Homo sapiens: one gene and its partners. The protein of the gene in region 1 purifies or fractionates together with the protein of each later gene. This does not show direct contact. Each region holds a gene or a part of one and is shown in the gene's direction. Other genes may lie near its edges.

Region 1 (6,876 bases):
CTAAGATTGGCCAAGATGTTTTTGAAGAACAGAGTGGAAGATTATCATGCCTTATTACAAAATTTTGGTAATTGTGTTTTTTTCTCTTTAGATTTAGTCCTAGAATGTTTGACGATATAGTCCTGGGGTTTTGATGTATTGAGAATTGATAATCTTTTTTTTTTTTTTTTTTTTTTTTTGAGGCAGTGTCTCACTTTGTTGCCCAGGCTAGAGTGTAGTGGCATGATCTTGGCTCATTGCAACCTCCGCCTCCTGGGTTCAAGTGATTCTCCTGAGTAGCTAGGACTACAGGCATGCGCCACCATGCCCAGCTAATTTTTGTATTTTTGTAGAGGCAGGGTTTCGCCATGTTGGCCAGGCTGGTCTCGAACTCCTGACCTCAAGTGATCCACCTTCCTCAGCCTCCCAAAGTGCTGGGATTACAGGCTTGAGCTACCGCACCCGGCCTAGAGAATTTAGATAATCTTTTCAAAAATTGCATTTTCTATCTGGTTCTGGTGTATAGAAATACAATTACTTTATATATATTACCTTTAAATCTAGCAACTCTGCCAAACTCACTATTTGATTACAGACGTGAGCCACTGCGCCCGGCCCAATACTGTATTTCTTGACCATGGTGATGGTTACATAGATGTTTTATGATTCATTAAGCTATATCTTTGTGAATAATGTACTTTTTTCTGTGTGTTATATATATTTCACCAAAGAAAAAGAGAATACATATAGGATGATATTATAGTCATATATCACTTAACAATAGGGATACATTCTGGGAAGTGTGTTGTTAGGTGATTTCATCATTGCAAATATCGTAGAGTGTCCCTGCACAAACATAGATAGCATAGCCTACTACACACTTAGGCTATACAGTGTACCCTGTTGCTCCCAGGGTAGAAGCACATACAGCACATTACTGTACTAAATACTGAAGGCAGTGATAACGCGAGGGTAAGTATTTGTATACGTAAACATAGAAAAAGTACAGTAAACTATGGTATTATAATGTTATGAACCACTGTTGGACTGTACCAGTCCGTGGCCTGTTAGGAACAGGGCTGCGCAACAGGAGCTGAGTGGCAGGCGAGCGAGCATTACACCTGGGCTCCATCTCCTGTCAGATCCACGGTTGCATTAGATTCTCATAGGAGCACAAACCCTATTGTGAACTGCGCATGCAAGAGATCTAGGTTGCGCATTCCTTTTGAGGATCCAACAAATGCCTGATGATCTGAAGTGGAACAGTTTCATTCTGAAACCACCTCCCCTCCCCGCCGCCTCGTGGTGCCAAAAAGGTTGGGGACCGCGGATATATGTAGTCCATCATTGACAGAAACATCATTATGCAGAGCATGATGATTTATATCAGTTTTTAAAATTACACAGTACTTTTTTTTTATGGCCACATGCACATGAAAGTATAAAAACATGCTTGGGAAAGATGGCAGCACATAAACTTAGATTTATGATTATCTCGGGGCAAGGAAGGGAATGTGATTGGACTGCGGCCTTCATCTATGCCTATTTTGTTCCTTTTAAAAAGAAAATACGAGGCTGGGCTTGGTGGCTCCTGCCCATAATCCCAACACTTTGGGAGGCTGAGACAAGAGGATCACTTGAGCCCAGGAGTTTGAGACCAGCCTGGGCAACACAGGAGACCCCGTCTTTACAAAAAAAATATAAAAATTAGCCAGGCGTGGTGGCACAAGCCTGTGGTCCCGGCTGCTTGGGAGGCAGAGGTGGTAGAATTGCTTGAGCCCAGGAGGTTGAGGTTACAGTGAGCCATGATCATGCCACTGCACTCCAGCCTGGGCAACAGCAAGACCCCCATCTCAAAAAAAAAAAAAAGAAATTGAAAACAAAGATGCCAAAATAGTAACACCTTAAATCTGGGTGATGTGTGCATGGGACCTACTATGTTCAGTACATTTCTGTATGTTTGTTTCATATTTAAAAGTAAGCAGGATAACCTTAAAGGGTAGAAGAGCTGGAGATAAAAATTAGGTATGTTATATAAGTGTAACTCTTTATTTTTTGTCTCAAAGGTACCTGAAGCTGTTCACTTTCCTGCCCCTTCCAGAGATTGATCATATCATGCAGCTGCATGTCAAAGAGCCAGAAAGGCGGGGTCCTCAGAAACGACTGGCAGCAGAAGTAACAAAGCTTGTTCATGGACGAGAAGGATTGGATTCTGCTAAAAGGTAGTAGTTTAGTATGATTAACACTTGATAGTTAGTTATTCAGTGGATAGACATGAGAAAAGTAGGAGTATGTTTTAGGATTATCTTGTCATTTATCACAAGGACTGTCAGTATTTGACTTAGCAATTTAAAATAGCCCCTGTTTATTGGAAAGAAGGATTATCTTGAATTAAGTTTATGAATTATACCAGATAGATGTTTAAAAAACTTTTAGTCTATGCCGGGCGCGGTGGCTCACGCCTGTAATCCCAGCACTTTGGGAGGCCAAGGTGGGCTGATCACGAGGTCAGGAGTTCGAGACCAGCCTGACCAACATGGTGAAACCCCCATCTCTACTAAAAATACAAAACTTAGCTGGGCGTGGTGGCACACGTCTGTAATCCCAGCTACTCAGGAGGCTGAGGCAGGAGAATCGCCTGAACCCGGGAGGCAGAGGTTGCTGTGAGCCGAGATCATGCCATTGCAATCCAGCCGGGGCAACAGAGCGAGACTCCATCTCAAAAAAAAACTTTTAGTCTAGAACTTGGACACTCTATAATTGGTTAATGGGTATTAGAACATGTATTTGAATAAACATTTATATGATGTAGCTCTTAAAATGTGTTTTTCAGGTGTACACAAGCCCTTTATCACAGTAGCATAGATGCACTGGAGGTCATGTCTGATCAGGAGTTAAAAGAGTTGTTTAAAGAAGCTCCATTTTCTGAATTTTTTCTCGATCCTGGAACAAGTGTCCTAGATACTTGCCGCAAAGCAAATGCCATTCCAGATGGTCCCCGAGGGTAAGATTATTTAACTTTTAGATTTACAGTTAATTCACCATTAAATGTTACAGTTCACAAGGCCAGGAGAAGTGGCTCATGCCTGTAATCACAGCACATTGGGAGGCCGAGGCGGGCAGATCACGAGGTCAGGAGATCGAGACCATCCTGGCTAACACGGTGAAACCCTGTCTCTACTAAAAATACAAATTAGCCGGGCATGGTGGCAGGCGCCTGTAGTCCCAGCTACTTGGGAGGCTGAGGCAGGAGAATGGCATCAACCCGGGAGGCAGAGCTTGCAGTGAGCGGAGATCCCACCACTGCACTCCAGCCTGGGTGACAGAGCAAGACTCTGTCTCAAAAAATAAATAAAATGTTACAGTTCACAGCATGTGTTTCCAGAGAGGATGTTTTCCTGATAGTGCTTTAGTGGCATCTCTTCCTTAGAAAAGTTAGTTTAGTCCAAGAATAAAGTATAGCCTGAGAGTACTTATTGTTGAAAATACTTTATATTTTCTATAATAGTACAGTACTCCTATACTGTCTCTTATTATATCTAACCCAGTCAGTCTTTCCTCCAACACTGGAAAAGTGCATTTGAGGGACATGTTCAGTAAATACACTGGCATCAGTGTACGGCTTAGGGATATGGTCACAGTTTTAGAGGGATGCAGAAACAGAGGCCCTATGTAACAGATTAACACAGCCCCTCTCATAGTCTGTATCCTTTTTATATTCGGGGATGGGAAAGGTTACCTAACCTATCTATAGTATTAACTGAATTTCTGAAAATGAAATGAGCATATAATGGCCAAAACCGCAAGTACTTTTGCACTAACCTACTAACGTCATAAGACTATTATTGTAAACTATATAATAATCCCCTTGAGAATTGCATTTTCTATTCAGGAATTGAGTAGAATATTTTAATTAATCAGTTATGAGGTATTAAGGAGTAAATAAGGTTTTTCACAAAAAATAATTCAGCATATAATTGATGCTTATCCATTTTTAAATGAACAGTGAGGTGGAAGGAAAAGTGTTGGGTAGCCAGAAGACCCCCAGGTGCCTCTTTTGCAGGAGTTCACACAGAAGTCAAATGGTTATCGGCCATATCATGGCCATGATTATGAATGACATTTGTTATAGTTGTTCTCTTTCAACTGTCTTGGATTGTTTGCCTGTGTCCTAAAGAGTCCTAGACTATTCTGCCTGGAAAAAGCACCCATTGTCTCCCTTTGCATCACCTGCCACTCCACCTTAGTGATTCCCTCATCTGCTGGTTTAACACACAGTGAATTTGAGGCTGGTGTCATATACTTCCCTGTAGTATGTCAGCGAGACAAATAATTTTCCTCACTATGGAAGCAGATTTCGTTTTCTTCTGAACTTTACTATAGTGTGTTCGCTAATACTGGAAGCTTTACCACTACTAAAAATGACACCACATCTGATTTAGCCAGGGCTCTAAGTAATACTGATTTTTTTTTTTAATATTATATAAGCTAAATAGGTTTGGTGCATTTAAATTAAACATAGAACATGATCTGGAAACTAGCAGACAGCGTAAAATAATACTTCCTAAAAGAAAGGAATCTGGCCTTAAGTAGAAAATATTTTACTGATGAGTTTTATAAAACCATGTCCATGGCCAGGTATGGTGGCTCACATTTGTAATCCCAGCACTTCGGGAGGCTGAGGGCGGGAGGATTGCTTGGGGCCAGGAGTTCAAGATCTGTGTGGGCAAGGACGTAGTGAGACTCCGTCTCTACCCAAAAATAAAGGTATAAAAATATCTTTAAAACCATGTCCAGTAGTGGTTTCTTAATTTTATTTGGTAACATTCAGATGAGAGAAAACCACCATTTTTCTTTCTTAAGGACTTCCAAGATCTAGCCACGCTGTAGCCCTGTCTTCTCAGATCTCACCTCTTTCTAGCTGCTCCCATGTTTCCTGCCCTGATTGTCAAGGTAGCTTCACTCCCAGTTTAAGTATCTCTTTTTTCAGTGAAATGTTCAGCCCTCACCTACCCAGTGTGCTCCTAGAACAACTTCTCCTAGGTCTTTCTTTTTTTTTCTTGAGACGGAGTCTTTAAAAGAGCAGATTGCAAGGCGTAAATTCCGGCCAGACACAGTGGTTCACACCTGTAATCCCAGCACTTTGGGAGGCCAAGGCAGGTGGATCACTTGAGGTTGGGAGTTTGAGACCAGCCTGGCTAACATGGCGAAACCCATCTCTACTAAAAATACAAAATTAGCCAGGTGTGGTGGCATGCACCTGTAATCGCAGCTACTCTGGAGGCTGAGGCAGGAGAATCACTTAGAACACAGGAGGCGGAGGTTGCAGTGAGCTGAGATCATGCCAGCCTGGGCTACAGAGCAAGAATGTGTTTCAAAAACAAACAACAAAAAACAAAGAGCAGTAAAGAGAGGCAGAATCTATTAATAATAGAGCAAACATGAAGGTAACAGTCCAGTGCCAAATGAAATCTTCTCAATTGGAGAGCCTCTGAAATCTAAGTGAAACAGTCTTTTTTGGGGGACAGATCAACAGTGATTGGATCTCTCTACTTACTAAACGTTTCTATTTTTTAGGTATCGAATGATAACAGAAGGCGGAGTCAGCATAAATCACCAACAAGTAACAAATCCTGAGAGTGTTTTAATTGTTGGACAACATATTCTCAAGAATGGACTTTCCTTACTTAAAATAGGAAAAAGAAATTTCTACATTATAAAATGGCTTCAGTTGTGATGAAAAGTCCTTCTGGTTGTCCAAATAAACTTACCCATCATTCATTCTCAAGACCTCTGAAGGGTTGGCTCCAGAACTTAGACCTTTGCTTATGCAAATCAGAAAAACAGAATGGACTAGGACTCAGTGTGAGTAACTTCATTATTTTTATGGGCCGGTTAATAAATATTTGTTTAATAATGGGATGTTTTATTTTCTGATGTACAAAGCTTGATTACCATAGAAAACCATGATTTTCAGGGTTAATCTCTTTTTAAAATTATACTTCAGAAGAGAAAGAAATGCTGCTTTCCTATCTTACCCTTCCTGCTCTCCTTTTTGTAGTGATGAGGAACAATGAAAAAGAGGTAGTGTAAGGAATTGTGAGGCTGGGCATGGTGGCTCACACCTGTAATCCCAGCACTTCGGGAGGCCAAGGTGGGCAAATCGCTTGAGGCCAGGAGTTTGAGACCAGCCTGGCCAACAGGGCGAAACCCCGTCTCTACTGAAAATATAAAAATTAGCCAGATGTGGTTGCAGGCACCTGTAACCCCAGCTACTCAAGAGGCTGAGCTGCGAGAATCACTTGAACCCAGGAGATGGAGGTTGCAGTGAGCTGAGATCACGCCACTGCACTCCAGCCTGGGAGACAGCATGAGTAGTGAGTGAAACTCTGTCTCAAAAAAAAAAAAAAAAAAAAGGAATTGTAGCTGCTTTTCTATCAGGTATGGAGCACCGATGTCACTAATGTTATATAGTTGTTTATAAAATCATCAGGGCCTCTAGTGTCCACATTAGAAATGGGAAAACTAGTATTAGAAACTTTGAATAGAAATTTGATTTTTTTGTAGTTCAGAGAGCAAATGTAGTTCTTAAAAAGGAGAAAAAGTTAGATGAGGCCATGGTTGCTTTGAGAAATTACAGTAAGTAGTTTCTTTACAAATAATAGTACAAAAATCAGTACGTGACTTTTCAGAAAGTTTCTAATTCAGTTTTCTGGTTCCTTGCCTGTGTTCCAGTATAATTCTGTTCACATTAAGCCTTGTTGTCAGTGGATTCCTAAGGTAGCAATGTTTTATAAATTTAGAAACTTAAATTGGTTTTAAGTTTCAGCTTTTCCCCCCAAGCAGATTGCAACTTGAGGTAAATTAAAAAGTTAACCCCCCAAAAATAAAGCCAAT
Region 2 (7,301 bases), on another chromosome or scaffold:
TTCAGCATGAATTAGTACTGATAATGAACTACTCACTAATGGCCACCAAAAGGTAAAGTTTGAAGTGAGGAGTGGTGGTAAAGTCACTTTTGGATTTGATGTGTGTCAGGAAGTTGTGGGGGTGGGAAAGAAGAATCTGGGATAACTTCTATTTTCCGGCTTGGGCAGATGATGCTGACCTTAACTAGAGAAAAATCATGAATGAGAAATTTAACTTTAGTCAAGTGCAGTTGGAGATACTTGTAGTGTGTCTAAGTGGATATGATCAGCAAGTAGCTGGATATATATGTATATGTATATGTACATGTATATGTATATGTATACATATATATGGGGTGCAGGTGCCATGTAAGGGTTTCAGACACACAATTTGTAGCCATCAACACCCAGGAAGTTAAAGCCACTACAACAGATGGAATTGGGCATCTGATAGAGCAGGAGGGATGGGGAAAAATGCAGAGCCCTCTCTGTAGCATTCTTCCTCAGTTAAGATAACTTAACTCCTAAGTTACCAACCTGTCTGAAGCTACCCCTGTCTATCAGCCACCCTGTCTAGTTCAAATCTATGGTTCATCTCTTCAAACCACTTTCTGGTCCATGTCTTAAATTATCTTTCTCCACTATCCTTTTGGGAAATGAGCCTGATAAAAGCCCCTTATCCTGGATGAACTCAATTACTTGCCTTTTCTGTAGCTGGGTCCTACCTGCTAGCCACCACTACAGAAACATTGTAGAACCAAGCGGAGGGCACCTTTAAAATTCATGGTCACCAGCTTTAATTGGCCCTCAACCCTGCGTGGAGATCCCTCTGTTTCCCTTATCAGCACTCTCTTCTGTTCTCCTCATTACTATTCCAGTCTTTTTCCTCTTCCTCCAAATCTTTTCCTTCTCCCCAACATTCCTCTGCATTATCAGAACACAACAGACAACTTTGCTTTTTACTTTACAAAAACCAACCCAAACAAAACAAAATGGCATTAGTTTGGAAAATCTCCAACCTCGTCCATCACATCTACATGCCTGTCTGTACTTGGACTCATCCTTTCCTCCTTTCTTCATTTCAATGGAAGAGGAGTCCTACCTCCTGTCTAATCTAATCCCACCACTTATGCTCTGAATCCCATCCTCATCTGCCTTCATAGGAACCTTGCTTAGTTAATTATCCTCTCTTTCTAGAGTCTTGTATCTGTTTCTAATAGTCCCTTTCTGTCATATTTAAATATACTCATTACATTATGTTTCTCCTGTCCTAAGAGACAAAAAACTCATCTCCCCCTCTAGCTATTGCCTTTCGTATGTCCTTTTTGATCAAAATATCTTGAAAGAGTTCCCTATATTTGCCATCCTCAGTTCTTCACTTCCATTTATTTCTCACCCACTGCAATGTAGCAGACCCCACAATTCTCTTGAAGGTCACTGAAGACTTCCATGCCACTAAATCCAGCAGATACTTTCCGATCCTTTTCTTGTTGACCCTTGGCAGCATTTGCCACCACTGCCCCCTTCCAGGCTTTTGAAACACTGCTATAGTGGGGGCATTCTCCCAGTTCTCCTATTCTATGGTCACTCCTTTCTATCCTTTGTAGGTTTCCATTCCTTTATCAACCCATTAAAAGGTATCATTCTGAGAAGCATCTTGTCTTTATAACTTACATATTCTTTTTGGCCAATCTGCTTCATTCCCTTGGCTTCAAGTAGCAATCTATATTTCCAGCTCAGATCTCCTTATCTAGATGCCTACACCCTCCTGTATTTTCCCATCTCCTTCAAAATGTCTCATAGACACTCAGAAGGTCTATGATGTATTTTGTCACCATTCCCCTACTAAATGTGCTTAGTCGCTTATATTTATTATGTCCATCTCCCTAATTATCTAAGAGTAGTAAGAGTATCCAGAGTATTAAACCTACTCATCCGCTTTTTTTTTTTTTTCAGTGACTCCTAATCTCTGCAATTATTCAAACCTCTGCTTGGGAACAATGTTTAACTCCTTTTTCTCCCTTATCTGCCCTCCTCCAGTCAATTAGACATCCAGTTCTATAGATTCTGCCTCCCTAATATCTCTCCAATCCATTCACTTCTCTCCATCTCCATTGTTTGCCACTCTAGGCCAGGTCACAATCAACTCCCTCCTGGACTATAGCACTAGTCTCCTAACTGGTTTCTTGGTATCCAGTCTTTTTGTCCCACACTATAGCCGTAACATTCAGATAAAATTCAGATTTGATTAGGCCCTCCTCCCCTTCTAAAAACCTTTCATGTACTCTGGATAAAGTCTAAACTACTGAATGTGGCTCAAAAGAATCTACATTATCTAACTCTAGCCTCACCTTATGAAATTCTCTTCCTTGTACTATTTGCTTCAGTCCTAATAAACTTATTTCAATTTTATACTTATTTTATATTCTCAATTGTCACCAAACTAGTTCTCCTTGCTCTAACCCCACTCCCAGTTACCCATGCCTAAATTGCTCCCCTCCTTTCTACCTCTTCTCTGTTAGGTAATTCATTATCATCTTTCAGGTATCTGCTTAAAATCTCTCCCTCTGGGAAACCCTTACCTGATTAAGTAAGGTCCCTGCTATCGTTCCTATAGAACCCTGCCCTGTCAGTGTCATACATGCAACATTCTCTGTGTGTTTTCCACTGACTTCCCACCATGTGGTTAGTCAGTGTTCAAAAATATTCTTCTGGGCCAGGTGTGGTGGTGCATGCCTGTAATCTTGGCACTTTGGGAGGTCAAGGTGGGCAAATCACTTGAGCGTAGGAGTTCAAGACCAGCGTGGGCAACATGACAAAACCCCATCTCTACAAAAATACAAAAATTAGCTGGGCATGCTGGTGTATGCCTGTAGTCCCAGCTACTTGGGAGGCTGAGGTGGGAGGATCGCTTGAGCCCAGGAGGTCAAAGCTGCTGTGAGCCACGATTGCACCACTGCAATCCAGCCTGGGTGACAAAGTGAGAGCCTGTCTCAAAAAAAAAAAAAAATCTCCTGTGGATGGTAGATGTCAATTGTGTTCAATGCATCAAAGAGATCAAATAAGTCAAAGACTAAACAGCTTCTATAAAAGTCAGTGGTGACTTTGGTGACAGCAGTTTCTGTCAGGAAGCAGAAGTAGAAGCCTTCTTCCAAGACTGATTGGAAGGCAGAACTGGAGATGGAAGAGCAGTCTACTCTTTTAAGAAACTTTACGAGGAGAGGAGGTAGGTACCATGGATTGTTGTAATAAAAGCCTTCTCAGTTGAGTCCTTGCTGTCAACCAGCACTTTCAATCATTCTCTCCGTTGCTGCCAAGACAGGCTTCCTAAAATGCAAACTCATTAAGACTACTCTCCTGCTTAAAATTTTTCTATAATTCCTCATTGCTTTCAGGATACAGTTCAAACACCTTTGCTTGACCTACATGAAATGCAAGGACCTGGCTCCTGCTCCTGTTGTAGCCCCAGGTCCTGTCACGCCCCACATATCCAGATCTTCTGTTAGGCCAGGAAGCTTCCTGCCTCTCTGCTTTTATTTGGAATAGCCTCCTCAGCTCACACCTTCACAACTCAGCTCCTGTAATACCTTCCCCAGCCAGTTCCTTGTGTCCACCTCTCCCTCATCCCCCAAACCCAGATTAGGAGTCTACGCTCCCAGAGGCCTGTGCAGGTCTCCTTCATCGCGTTAATCACACCGTATCAAAAGTACATGTTCTGTGCCCCATGAGACTGAAAGCTCCTCTAAGGCAGGGATATGTTTCCCTCCATTGCATCCCCAGTGTCCCACAATGCTTGGCGCACCGTCACGGTCCAGTAAAAAACTTTGAATAAATCTATAGCAAAGCATGGAGCGGTCCGTATAGAGGCTGCCAAGCCGAGCGGCCATGGGAGGTGAGCTGTTGTCGGCGTTTTGAGCAATCTGCGGGCGGACGCGGGGATCACTCACCCGCGATGACGAATTTGGCCATGGTCGAGAGAGACTCAGAGGCAGGGACCGCGGCTTCGCGGTTTCCTGGCAACCACGCAGCCAAGGGCAAGGCGCAGGCGCACTACAAAGTCTGGCGCCCAGCAGAGGTTAGGTGTTTAAAGTTAGGACCTGAATGGGTTACGTTGCGATACACGATCAAACATCGCCCTTATAAGCTCTGTGGTATCCCCGAGCCCCACTCCTGTATGCAGGGAAATTAGTCATTCTCCTTGGTAAACTTTCTTCAAGTAAGTCCTTCAGCTACAGCCGCGAACATATGCTTTTTGACCTTTGAGGGAATCCGTAAGATCTCGTGAGAAGCGCAGCTTCTCGGGGAAGCTGTCATGGCTGCTCCTGTACGTAGTCACGGTCTTGTGCTCTAAGGTGAGTGGAGGACGAGCTTGGGCTTAGCGGCAGCCCGTATCACATCCTAGACTTTTTACTTCGAGGAGAAGAGTCTCACGAGTTGTCCTGGAAGTAAGTTTAAAGGAGGTGGGTTAATGCTGGGCGGCCCAGCTGCGGAAGGACAGGCTCTTGAAGTTGGTTCTGGGGTCTGGTGAGGCTGGCTGGTTGTATAAGATCTTCCTCTTAAGCGCAGGCCACGTGCAGACATCGCTTTCGTTTTCTGCTTCTTCCACTGAGCCGTTCTACCTGCCCAGGTCCCTATTCTTGATGGTCTGGGTTCGGCCGTTGCTAAATCGTCATGTTGAAAATGATCTATCAGCCGGGCGCGGTGACTCACGCCTTGGGAGGCCGAGGCGGGTGGATTACCTGAGGTCAGGAGTTCAGGACCAGCCTGGCCAACATGGTGAAACTCCGTCTTTACAAAAAATACAAAAATTAGCCGGGCGTGGTGGCATACGCCTGTAATCCCAGCTACTTGGGAGGCTGAGACAGGAGAATTGCTTGAACCTGGGAGGTGGAGGTTGCAGTGAGCCAAGATCGCGCCACTGCACTCTAGCCTGGGGGACATAGCAAGACTTTGTCTCAAAAAAAAAAAAAAAAAAAAAAAAAACAGAGAAGAGAAAAGAAAATGATCTATCAATGCTAATCCCCTAATTTTCACCGAGGACATTTCCATAACAATGCCAACAAAAGTCTCTCCTACAGAGAAAGCTTTATGGAACGCTTTTGCACCAGAAAAATCTCATTAATACAATGACTACTTCCAAAGTGACCTGGCTTCTTTGAAACTGGACACATTGTGGTAGATTGGAGGGAGCCCACATTGGTAAAAAAAACTTTTACTGTTTTATGTAAATGTTTAATGGCTCCATAGGTTCCCCATTTTCTCTTCTGTTAAATGCATTTCATTTCTTTAAGTAAAAGTTTTGTTTTAATTTTTATTCTTTTCATTACTTCTTCCCCTACAGGAAAACGACAGCACGTGTTCTTTTTCACTAGTAGAAGTGACGTTGGTTTCATGTTGACAACTTTGAAGCCATTTGGAAGTGTTTCAGTGGAGAGCAAAATGAATAACAAAGCGGGCTCCTTTTTCTGGAACCTTAGACAATTCAGTACATTAGTTTCAACAAGCAGAACTATGAGGCTATGTTGTTTGGGACTTTGCAAACCAAAAATAGTTCATTCAAACTGGAACATTTTAAATAACTTTCATAACAGAATGCAATCAACTGATATCATTAGATATCTCTTTCAGGATGCATTCATTTTTAAATCAGATGTTGGCTTTCAAACAAAGGGCATAAGCACTCTAACAGCCCTTAGAATTGAAAGACTACTTTATGCTAAAAGACTGTTTTTTGACTCAAAGCAGTCTCTTGTCCCTGTTGATAAATCTGATGATGAATTGAAGAAAGTAAACCTTAATCATGAAGTCTCCAATGAAGATGTTCTTACCAAGGAAACAAAACCAAACCGTATCAGCAGTAGAAAACTGTCTGAGGAATGTAATTCCCTGAGTGATGTGTTAGATGCATTTTCAAAAGCGCCCACATTTCCTAGTAGCAACTATTTCACAGCAATGTGGACAATTGCCAAAAGACTGTCTGATGACCAGAAGCGCTTTGAAAAACGACTGATGTTTAGCCACCCTGCATTTAATCAGCTCTGTGAACATATGATGAGAGAAGCCAAGATCATGCAGTATAAGTACCTACTGTTCAGTCTTCACGCCATAGTGAAGCTTGGAATCCCTCAGAACACTATTTTGGTGCAGACTTTGCTGAGGGTGACCCAGGTAAAATAAAAAGGAGATTTAAACATGCATTTACTTGATTTAGAATATTTTGAAAGAATGAAGGGATATAGATATGTAGCCTTCTTAAAAGAGACTATCAAATGGAATGGTAGTTTCCTTTATATTTATTTCTGCATATATATTATATGATTTAGAGGCCTTAAGTTAGCTATTTTCTTCCTTTTGCTATGGAAATTTATGAAAGCCTTCCACATTTACCATCCCCAGGGTTGAGTAGTGGTGAAGAAGCTAAAGTGAGGAGAGATGCAAGATATACAAAGAAAGCCTGGGTAGTTGAAGAAGGAGAGAAGGGAAGGGGAAGGAAGAGAATTTAGTCCATGGTAGAATTGGAATTCAGGCCCAGTAGATGATACCTAAACTGATGAGCAGAATGATAGTGAAGGGGATGGTGTTTCAAGTAGAGAGGATTGCATGCCCTACTGTTCCCAGAGGAAAAGTTTGGCAAATTTGAAGAGCTGAAAGTAGTTTGGTGTAGCTGAAGCACAGAATGATGGAGTTGTATGTTTGAGTGGGTGGGAACAAGTTTTGTACATGGCGATCAAAGGAGAGGAGTGAGGGGCAAGAGGCTTAGGGGCAGAACAAGAGGCCAGAAAAATAGGAACCAAATCATAAAGAGCCTCTTACGGCTAGCTAAGGAGTATGCATTTATCCTGTAGGCAATGGGAATCCGTTGAAGAATTTTAAGCAATGGGTTGACGTGCTCAAATTTGTATTTTAGATCACTGAATGAGTGGAAGATGTATTGGAAGAAGGTTAAAATTGGATGGAGGGAGCCATTTTTAGTCTAAAGCAAGAATGTCAGTGTCCTGTTTAATGTCACTGAAATGGTGCCAAATGTAAGGAAGGAAGGATTAGCTTGTTAATCATTTATGTTTTAAGAGTGTACACTTCTGACGTATAAACTCAGTGATAATGAAGTAATTTCTTAGCCAGGTGTGGTGGCTCACACCTGTAATCCCAGCACTTTGGGAGGCCAAGGCAGGAGGATCTCTTGAGCCCAGGAGTTTGCGACCAGCCTGGGCAACAAAGGGAGACTCCATCTCTACAAAAAATACAAAAATTAGCTGGGTGTGATGTACTTGCCTGTGGTCCCAGCTACTTGGGAGGCTGAGGTGGGAATATCACTTGAGCCT
Region 3 (7,503 bases), on another chromosome or scaffold:
CTGCTCTCTCTCAGTATGGGATCTCTGAACAAGCTGTCCCTGCCCAGGGGCCACGTCCCTATTCTTCCACCTGGCTGACTCCCTGTAGACTTTTAGAACCTCATCACCTCCTCCTGGAAGCCTTCTCTGACCAACATCTCCCAAAACAGGGTAAAGGCATCTCTGAGCTCATTCCTGTCCTGGCATGGAGCTATCCTGGCAACTATTAATAGAAGAGCAACTATCTGTCAATATGCCTTCTTCACTGTAAGGTGAAAATAGGCACTGTGGCTTGTTCATCACCAGATCCTCATCAGAGAGCATACAATCTGGCATATGGTAGATGCTTAGTGTTTGCTGTAAAAAGAAGTTAATGGCAGCCGGGTGAGGTGGCTCACGCCTGTAATCCCAGCACTTTGGGAGGCCAAGGCAGGCGGATTACCTAAAGTCGGGAGTTTGAGACCAGACCAGCCTGACCAACATGGAGAAACCACGTCTCTACTAAAAATACAAAATTAGCCGGGTGTGGTGGCGCATGCCTGTAATCCCAGCTACTTGGGAGGCTGAGGCAAGAGAATCACTTGAACCCGGGAGGCGGAGGTCACAGTAAGCTGAGATCATGCCACTGCACTCTAGCCTGGGCAACAAGAGCAAAACTCCATCTCCAAAAAAAAAAAAAAACAAGAAGTTAATGGACCAAGTGCAACAAGAGCTATGATCCACTCCATGCTTCAGTCACAGAAGAACTCTATCCCAGCCAAAGTGCATTTAAAGTGCTTTGTTATCACTCAAGTTTGGTTTTAGAGGAGACGAATGACTACTCCAATCTCTGGCTTACCCAGTAAAGGACTACAAGCCCTTTGGCCAACTTGCATGGAGCCATCACTTGAGTGAACAAGATTCACATAAGAAAGCAACAGAAGAGGTTGAGCCCAATTCTGGATACTGATTAGGAAATAATCTGCAGGCAACAAGGATTCATGAATGGCTTTTGAGTCAAAGGGTAACATGGCCATAGCTGTGCTTTTTTTTTTTTTTTTTTTTTCAGATAGACTCTTGCTCTATCACCCAGTCTGGAATGCAATGGCACAATCTCAGGTCACTGCAACCTCCGCCTCCCGGGTTCAAGCAATTCTTCCACTTCAGCCTCCCGAGTAGCTGGGATTACAGGTGCCTGCCACCATGCTCAGCTAATTTTTGTATTTTTGTAAAGAAAGGGTTTCACCACGTTTGCCAGACTGGTCTTGAACTCCTGACCTCGTGATCTGCCCGCCTTGGCCTCTCAAAGTGCTGGGATTACAGGCGTGAGCCACCACACCAGGCCTAGCTGTGCTTTAATAACATCACTCGGGAAACAGAAGGTAGACCAGAGGGTAAAAAACAAAGAGCAGGTAGGGAGCTGGATGAGAAGGAAGGTCAAAGGGTCCAGGAATACTATAGTGATAATGACTGAAAATATGATTACCTGCGCACAGCCCTGCTACAGGTGGGAAAATGGAGGAACAATAAAGTAATACCAATAGCACTTTTTATTGCTGTAATGCTTTGCAATTCCCAAAGTGCTTCATTTATAACTGTGATTCTCAAGCCTAGTTACATCTGGAGAGGTTTCTAAAAATACCAATTTCTCGGCTGGGCACAATGGCTCACATCTGTAATCCCAGCACTTCGGGAGGCCAAGGCAGGCAGATCAACTGAGGTCAGGAGTTCGAGATCAGCCTGGTCAAAATGGCAAAACCTCATCTCTACTAAAAATACAGAAATTAGCCGGGTTTGGTAGCACGTGCCTGTAATCCCACCTACTGGGGTGGCTGAGGCAGAAGAATCACTTGAACCTGGGAGGCAGAGGTTACAGTGAGTCGAGATGGCACCACTGAAGTCTAGCCTGGGTGACAGAGCAAGACCTTGTCTAGGCCTTAACCCAAATCAATTAAATCAGAATGTAAACTCCACAAGGGCAGGGATTTTGGCTGTTTTCCTCACTACCAATGCCTGGCACATGCGTGGTGCTCAGGAAGTATTTGTTGAATGAATGATTGAATGAATGAATGAATATACCATTATTAACTGAGATCCAAGGAACACACCAAGCTCCTGATCTCAGGAGCTTAGATTTTTTTTCACAATAAGGATACCTTTCCTATTTCTAAAGCACTACTTATAAAAATATCTCAGAAAACATTTAGAAGTTAATCAATGTCCTCTGTGAGTGAGGGGGAAAAAAGGTAGGCAGTGTCTAGTGATGTGACAAGAAGAAATTAGTGGCCACGGACACAGACAGGCTTAGGCAAGCTCTAACTCCTGTGAAATTTTGAGGTAATCATATTGTAAGGACTCAAGCATAATGAGAAAACAACTATATATTAACCAGCTACCCTACCCTGGATATTTGAACAAAACCCAAAAACCCAAATGCATATACATACCTATTATTTTGTTCTGATACTTCAGGATTACTTTGATATATGTGTTCTGGCTTTGTACAGAGTAATTCTTTGTTTGATATCTGAAAAACAGTGGCACATGGAAATGGATGAAACCTGTTGGGACAAACATCCAAGGGACCTTTTTTTTTTTTTTTTGAGACAGAGTCTCGCCCTGTCGCCCAGGCTGGAGTGCAATGGTGCGATCTCGGCTCACTGCAACAACCTCCGCCTCCCGGGTTCAAACGATTATCCTGCCTCAGCCTCCCGAGTAGCTGGGATTACAGGCATGAGCCTGGCCCCAAGGAACTATTTGGATAAGGAGAAGCCCTGAGTTTGGAAAGAATCATAAAAGTAGCATAGAATTGGGCCGGGCACAGCGGCTCACACCTGTAATCTCAGCACTTTGGGAGACCAAGGTGGGCAAATCATGAGGTCAGGAGTTTGAGACCAGCCTGCCCAACGTAGTGAAACCCTGTCTCTATTAAAAATACAAAAATTAGCTGGGAGTGGTAGCGCACACCTCTAATCCCAGCTACTCAGATGGCTGATGCAGGAGAATCCCTTGAACCCAGAAGGCAGAGACTGCAGTGAGCTGACATCGCACCACTGTACTCCAGCCTGGGCAACACAGTGAGACTGTCTATAAAAAAAAAAAAAAAAAAAGTATCCAGCCATTGTCAAATATGGTGGGAGGGAAAGGGCAAAATCACCCTTGTTTTAGAACCACTACCCTATCCAATGACTGTTCATTCACCCATCACTACTCAAAACTTTCTCTTCCTACTTCCAGATATTTTCTTGTGGAGAAAAAAAGCCTCTCTTCCTCTGATTTATCTGGTAACTCTCCAGAAAGTCTAATTGTGTAGCACAAGGGTAGAGTGTACTTAAAATTGTGAAAGTTTTTCCTCATACTATTCCAAAAAAAGCAAAGTTTTTATCTTTTCATTGGTATTTGATGAAACTAAAACGTTTTCTCCAGATGTTACGAACCTCCCAGAGAGTTAATCCATAAATATTTACCTTATCTCCCACCCCAGGCACTGCAAATTACAGAAAAGATCTGACACCCATTTTCCAGATCTGTTCAAGAAGTATCTGTTGGGCATGGTGGCTCACGCTTATAATCCCATCACTTTGGGAGGCCGAGGTGGGAAGATCGCTTGAGGCCAGGAGTTCGAGACCAGCCAGGCCTACATAGTGAAACCCTGTCTCTACTAAAAACAGAAAAAATTAGCCGGGCGTGGGTGGTGTACGGCTGTAGTCTCAGCTACTTGGGAGGCAGAGGCAGGAGAATCACCTGAACCCAGGAGGTGGAGGTTGCAGTGAGCCGAGATTGCGCCACTGCACTCCAGCCTGGGTGACAGAACGAGACTGTGTCTCAGAAAAAAAAAAAAAAAAAGTGACTCGTATAGTTCTTGTTTTTACAACCCGAATATCTGAATTCAGGTAAAATATTCTGCCTGACCAGGGCTACATGATAAGCCACGTACTTGATCACTTTGTAGGGTCGCAGCACCCTTCTTACTACTATTTTAGGTAATTCAGGTTTCTGACGGGGAAGCCAGTGGAGCTGAGCGGGCTGCAAGAGGGGTGGGTTCTGGATGAGAAGTTGGGACGCGTGACGAGGGAGTAGAGAGTGAACCTTGGCTTAAAAGGAAGGAAAATAACTGTGAAGAAAAGATGACCCAACTTGAAATAAAACCTGAAGACCTTATCTCCCACTTGAGAGAGAGAAGAAGCTGAAAGCCATCAGCTTGCACTCTGGGCTCACAGACAGAGAGGGTGAGGGGTTGAGCCCAGATCTATGACTTCAGACCCCTGTCTCGGCCCCTAGGCCTGATCATTCATTCAAACTCTCAATAAACACGGATTACCAGACCCTGCGCAGGGAACACATCTGGGAAAACAGCTGCAACCTCGGATACCAGCACGGGACAAGCTATCTCAGGGCAATGAGGAACAACTAAAGAGAATCCCAGGAACCAGGTAACCAATCGCCAGAAGCCCTCCGCCCTCATGGTCCATTGGGTCAAGGCCCCACTGCCGCCTCGTATCGCCAGCCTCCAGTCCTGCCTCCACGACGCGCCCTTCCCCAAGGCTGGCCGGGTCTGGATGTCGCCATCCCCTATTCGGAGCTACAGACCTCGCAGCTGAACTCTTAAAAAGAACCTCGCTTCTTCCTCACGGTGCTCCAGCTCCACACACCGTACTGAGCCTCGCCAGCCACCGTACGCGAGGTCGCGGCGCGTCCGTGACGTCACTGATGTGCGCTTCTCCCGCACTAAGGGAAACATGGCTCTAACGCGGCCGGTGCGGCTCTTTTCCCTCGTGACTCGGTTGCTCCTGGCGCCGCGACGGGGCCTCACGGTCCGCAGTCCCGACGAACCCCTGCCGGTGGTGCGCATCCCAGTGGCTCTACAGCGGCAGTTGGAACAGCGGCAGAGCAGGCGGCGGAACCTCCCGAGGCCGGTGCTGGTTCGACCCGGACCGCTGCTGGTTTCGGCGCGGCGGCCGGAGTTGAACCAGCCGGCGCGCCTCACACTGGGCCGTTGGGAGCGCGCGCCGCTAGCCTCTCAAGGCTGGAAGAGTCGACGCGCGCGTCGGGACCACTTCTCCATCGAGCGCGCGCAACAGGAGGCGCCAGCGGTGCGAAAGCTCTCGTCTAAGGGCAGCTTTGCTGACCTGGGCCTGGAGCCCCGTGTGCTGCACGCACTACAGGAGGCTGCGCCTGAAGTCGTTCAGCCCACAACCGTGCAGTCTAGCACCATCCCCTCACTACTTCGCGGCCGCCATGTCGTTTGCGCCGCAGAAACCGGCAGTGGCAAGACTCTCAGCTACCTCCTGCCGCTGCTTCAACGGCTCTTGGGCCAGCCAAGCCTGGACTCCCTTCCTATCCCCGCGCCCCGAGGCCTGGTCCTTGTTCCTTCCCGAGAATTGGCCCAACAGGTGCGGGCTGTGGCCCAACCCTTGGGCCGCTCCTTGGGCCTGCTGGTGCGGGACCTGGAGGGAGGCCACGGCATGCGTAGGATCAGGCTGCAGCTGTCCAGACAGCCTTCAGCAGATGTGCTTGTGGCCACTCCAGGGGCTCTGTGGAAGGCCCTGAAAAGTCGACTGATCAGTCTGGAGCAACTCTCCTTCTTGGTGTTGGATGAGGCAGACACACTGCTGGATGAAAGCTTCCTGGAACTGGTGGACTACATCTTAGAGAAGAGCCACATAGCAGAAGGCCCAGCTGACTTGGAAGACCCCTTCAATCCCAAAGCTCAGTTAGTGCTGGTAGGAGCCACATTTCCCGAAGGTGTAGGCCAGTTGCTGAATAAAGTCGCCAGCCCAGATGCTGTCACCACCATCACCAGCTCCAAGCTCCACTGTATCATGCCTCATGTGAAACAGACATTTCTGAGACTGAAGGGAGCAGATAAGGTGGCCGAGCTGGTGCACATCCTCAAGCATCGTGACAGAGCAGAAAGGACTGGTCCCTCAGGAACTGTTCTGGTGTTCTGTAATAGCTCCAGCACTGTGAACTGGCTGGGATATATTCTGGATGACCACAAAATCCAACACCTAAGGTTGCAGGGGCAAATGCCAGCCTTGATGAGGGTAGGAATCTTCCAGTCCTTCCAGAAGAGCTCCCGAGACATACTTCTCTGCACAGACATAGCCTCTCGGGGCCTGGACAGCACTGGTGTGGAGCTGGTTGTCAATTATGATTTCCCCCCAACGCTGCAAGATTACATCCACAGAGCAGGGAGAGTGGGCCGTGTGGGGAGCGAGGTGCCAGGCACCGTCATCAGTTTTGTGACCCATCCCTGGGATGTGAGCCTGGTTCAGAAGATTGAGCTGGCGGCTCGCCGAAGGAGAAGTCTTCCAGGACTAGCATCCTCGGTGAAAGAGCCTTTGCCCCAAGCAACCTGATTTTGACAAATCTGATTAAAATGTGATGCTAGAACAGGGATCTTTCCCAGTATCTTGAGTGGGTGACCACACTTGTCAGTGGGAGGCTCTGGGCTGCCCTGTCGGCTCCTTGAGGGCGGGATGAACTGCTTTGTGACTTGGAAAGGTACGCTGCTGGCCAGCATTGGAGAAGAAGCTGCTGAGCATGGCTTTCTGTAGTCTTTAGCAAGACACAAGTGGATTTTGACTTTGTATCATGTCATGATTTCTAACAATAAATGATGTTTTTATGTGCCTCCCCTAAGAATAATTAGCACCGGGGCGGAATTCAGTAGTTTCTGAGGATTCATACACCAAACCTCCACATCTAGGACAAAGGCTCTTTCAGTTGATGTTTTCATTTATAAACATTTAGTTTGTATTTCCTGCCCCCAAAAAGGTATCCATTAAGCCCCCAGGGAAAGGAAAGGAAAGGAAATGTGACTAGCAGTAGACAGAGTTACTCTCTAACAATGCCCAAGACAAACGGGCGTCTTGGCGAAATCTCTGGAAGGTACTGGCAGAAAAGTAAAGGGTAGACGAACACAGAAGTTTTGCTTGTACATTTTCAGGTTCTGCCTTCTATCCCAACTCGGTAGCCGAGAAAGAGGAGAGATGATTAAACGGTTTTACAAAACTGGAAAAATAACCATATAGCATTTTCTTTATATATATATATACGTATATATATATATATATATATATATATACATACGTATATATATATATACACATACATATATATACGTATATATATATATGTATATATATATATACGTGTATATATATATACGTGTATATATATATGTGTATATATATATATACACAAAAAAAAATTACAAAAATCAACCCGGCGTGGTGGCACGCGCCTGTAGTCCCAGCTACTCGGGAGGCTGAGGCAGGAGAATCACTTGAACCTGGGAGGCGGAGGTTGCAGTGAGCCAAGATCATACCACTACACTCCAGCCTAGGGGACAGAGCAAGACTCCATCTCAAAAAAAAAAAAAAAAAAAAGCCGGGTGTGGTGGCTCACGCCTGTAATGCCAGCACTTTGGGAGGCTGAGGCAGGAGGATCACCTGAGGTCAGGAGTTTAAGACCAGCCTGGTAAACATGCGAAACCCCATCTCTATTAAAAATACAAAAAAATTAGCTGAATGTGGTGGT

The links.
Region 2: the proteins of YARS2 (region 1) and FASTKD2 purify together in Homo sapiens (affinity purification with mass spectrometry; 2 studies listed by BioGRID and IntAct, with this or other methods). This does not show direct contact.
Region 3: the proteins of YARS2 (region 1) and DDX28 purify together in Homo sapiens (affinity purification with mass spectrometry; 2 studies listed by BioGRID and IntAct, with this or other methods). This does not show direct contact.

Annotation. Positions count from the first base shown.
Region 1 is NC_000012.12:32,746,044-32,752,919, reverse strand, and holds the end of YARS2 (tyrosine--tRNA ligase, mitochondrial precursor), read left to right. Parts: intron 1-2,045; coding exon 2,046-2,201; intron 2,202-2,812; coding exon 2,813-2,983; intron 2,984-5,556; coding exon 5,557-5,716; 3' UTR 5,717-6,376; downstream 6,377-6,876. UniProt on the Homo sapiens protein: Catalyzes the attachment of tyrosine to tRNA(Tyr) in a two-step reaction: tyrosine is first activated by ATP to form Tyr-AMP and then transferred to the acceptor end of tRNA(Tyr).
Region 2 is NC_000002.12:206,761,324-206,768,624, forward strand, and holds the start of FASTKD2 (FAST kinase domain-containing protein 2, mitochondrial), read left to right. Parts: upstream 1-4,282; 5' UTR 4,283-4,424; exon of another isoform or gene 4,425-4,439; intron 4,440-5,320; 5' UTR 5,321-5,370; coding exon 5,371-6,147; intron 6,148-7,301. Other genes in the region: MDH1B (putative malate dehydrogenase 1B), read right to left, coding at 3,927-3,948. UniProt on the Homo sapiens protein: Plays an important role in assembly of the mitochondrial large ribosomal subunit.
Region 3 is NC_000016.10:68,020,397-68,027,899, reverse strand, and holds DDX28 (probable ATP-dependent RNA helicase DDX28), read left to right. Parts: upstream 1-4,667; 5' UTR 4,668-4,697; coding exon 4,698-6,320; 3' UTR 6,321-6,984; downstream 6,985-7,503. UniProt on the Homo sapiens protein: Plays an essential role in facilitating the proper assembly of the mitochondrial large ribosomal subunit and its helicase activity is essential for this function. May be involved in RNA processing or transport. Has RNA and Mg(2+)-dependent ATPase activity.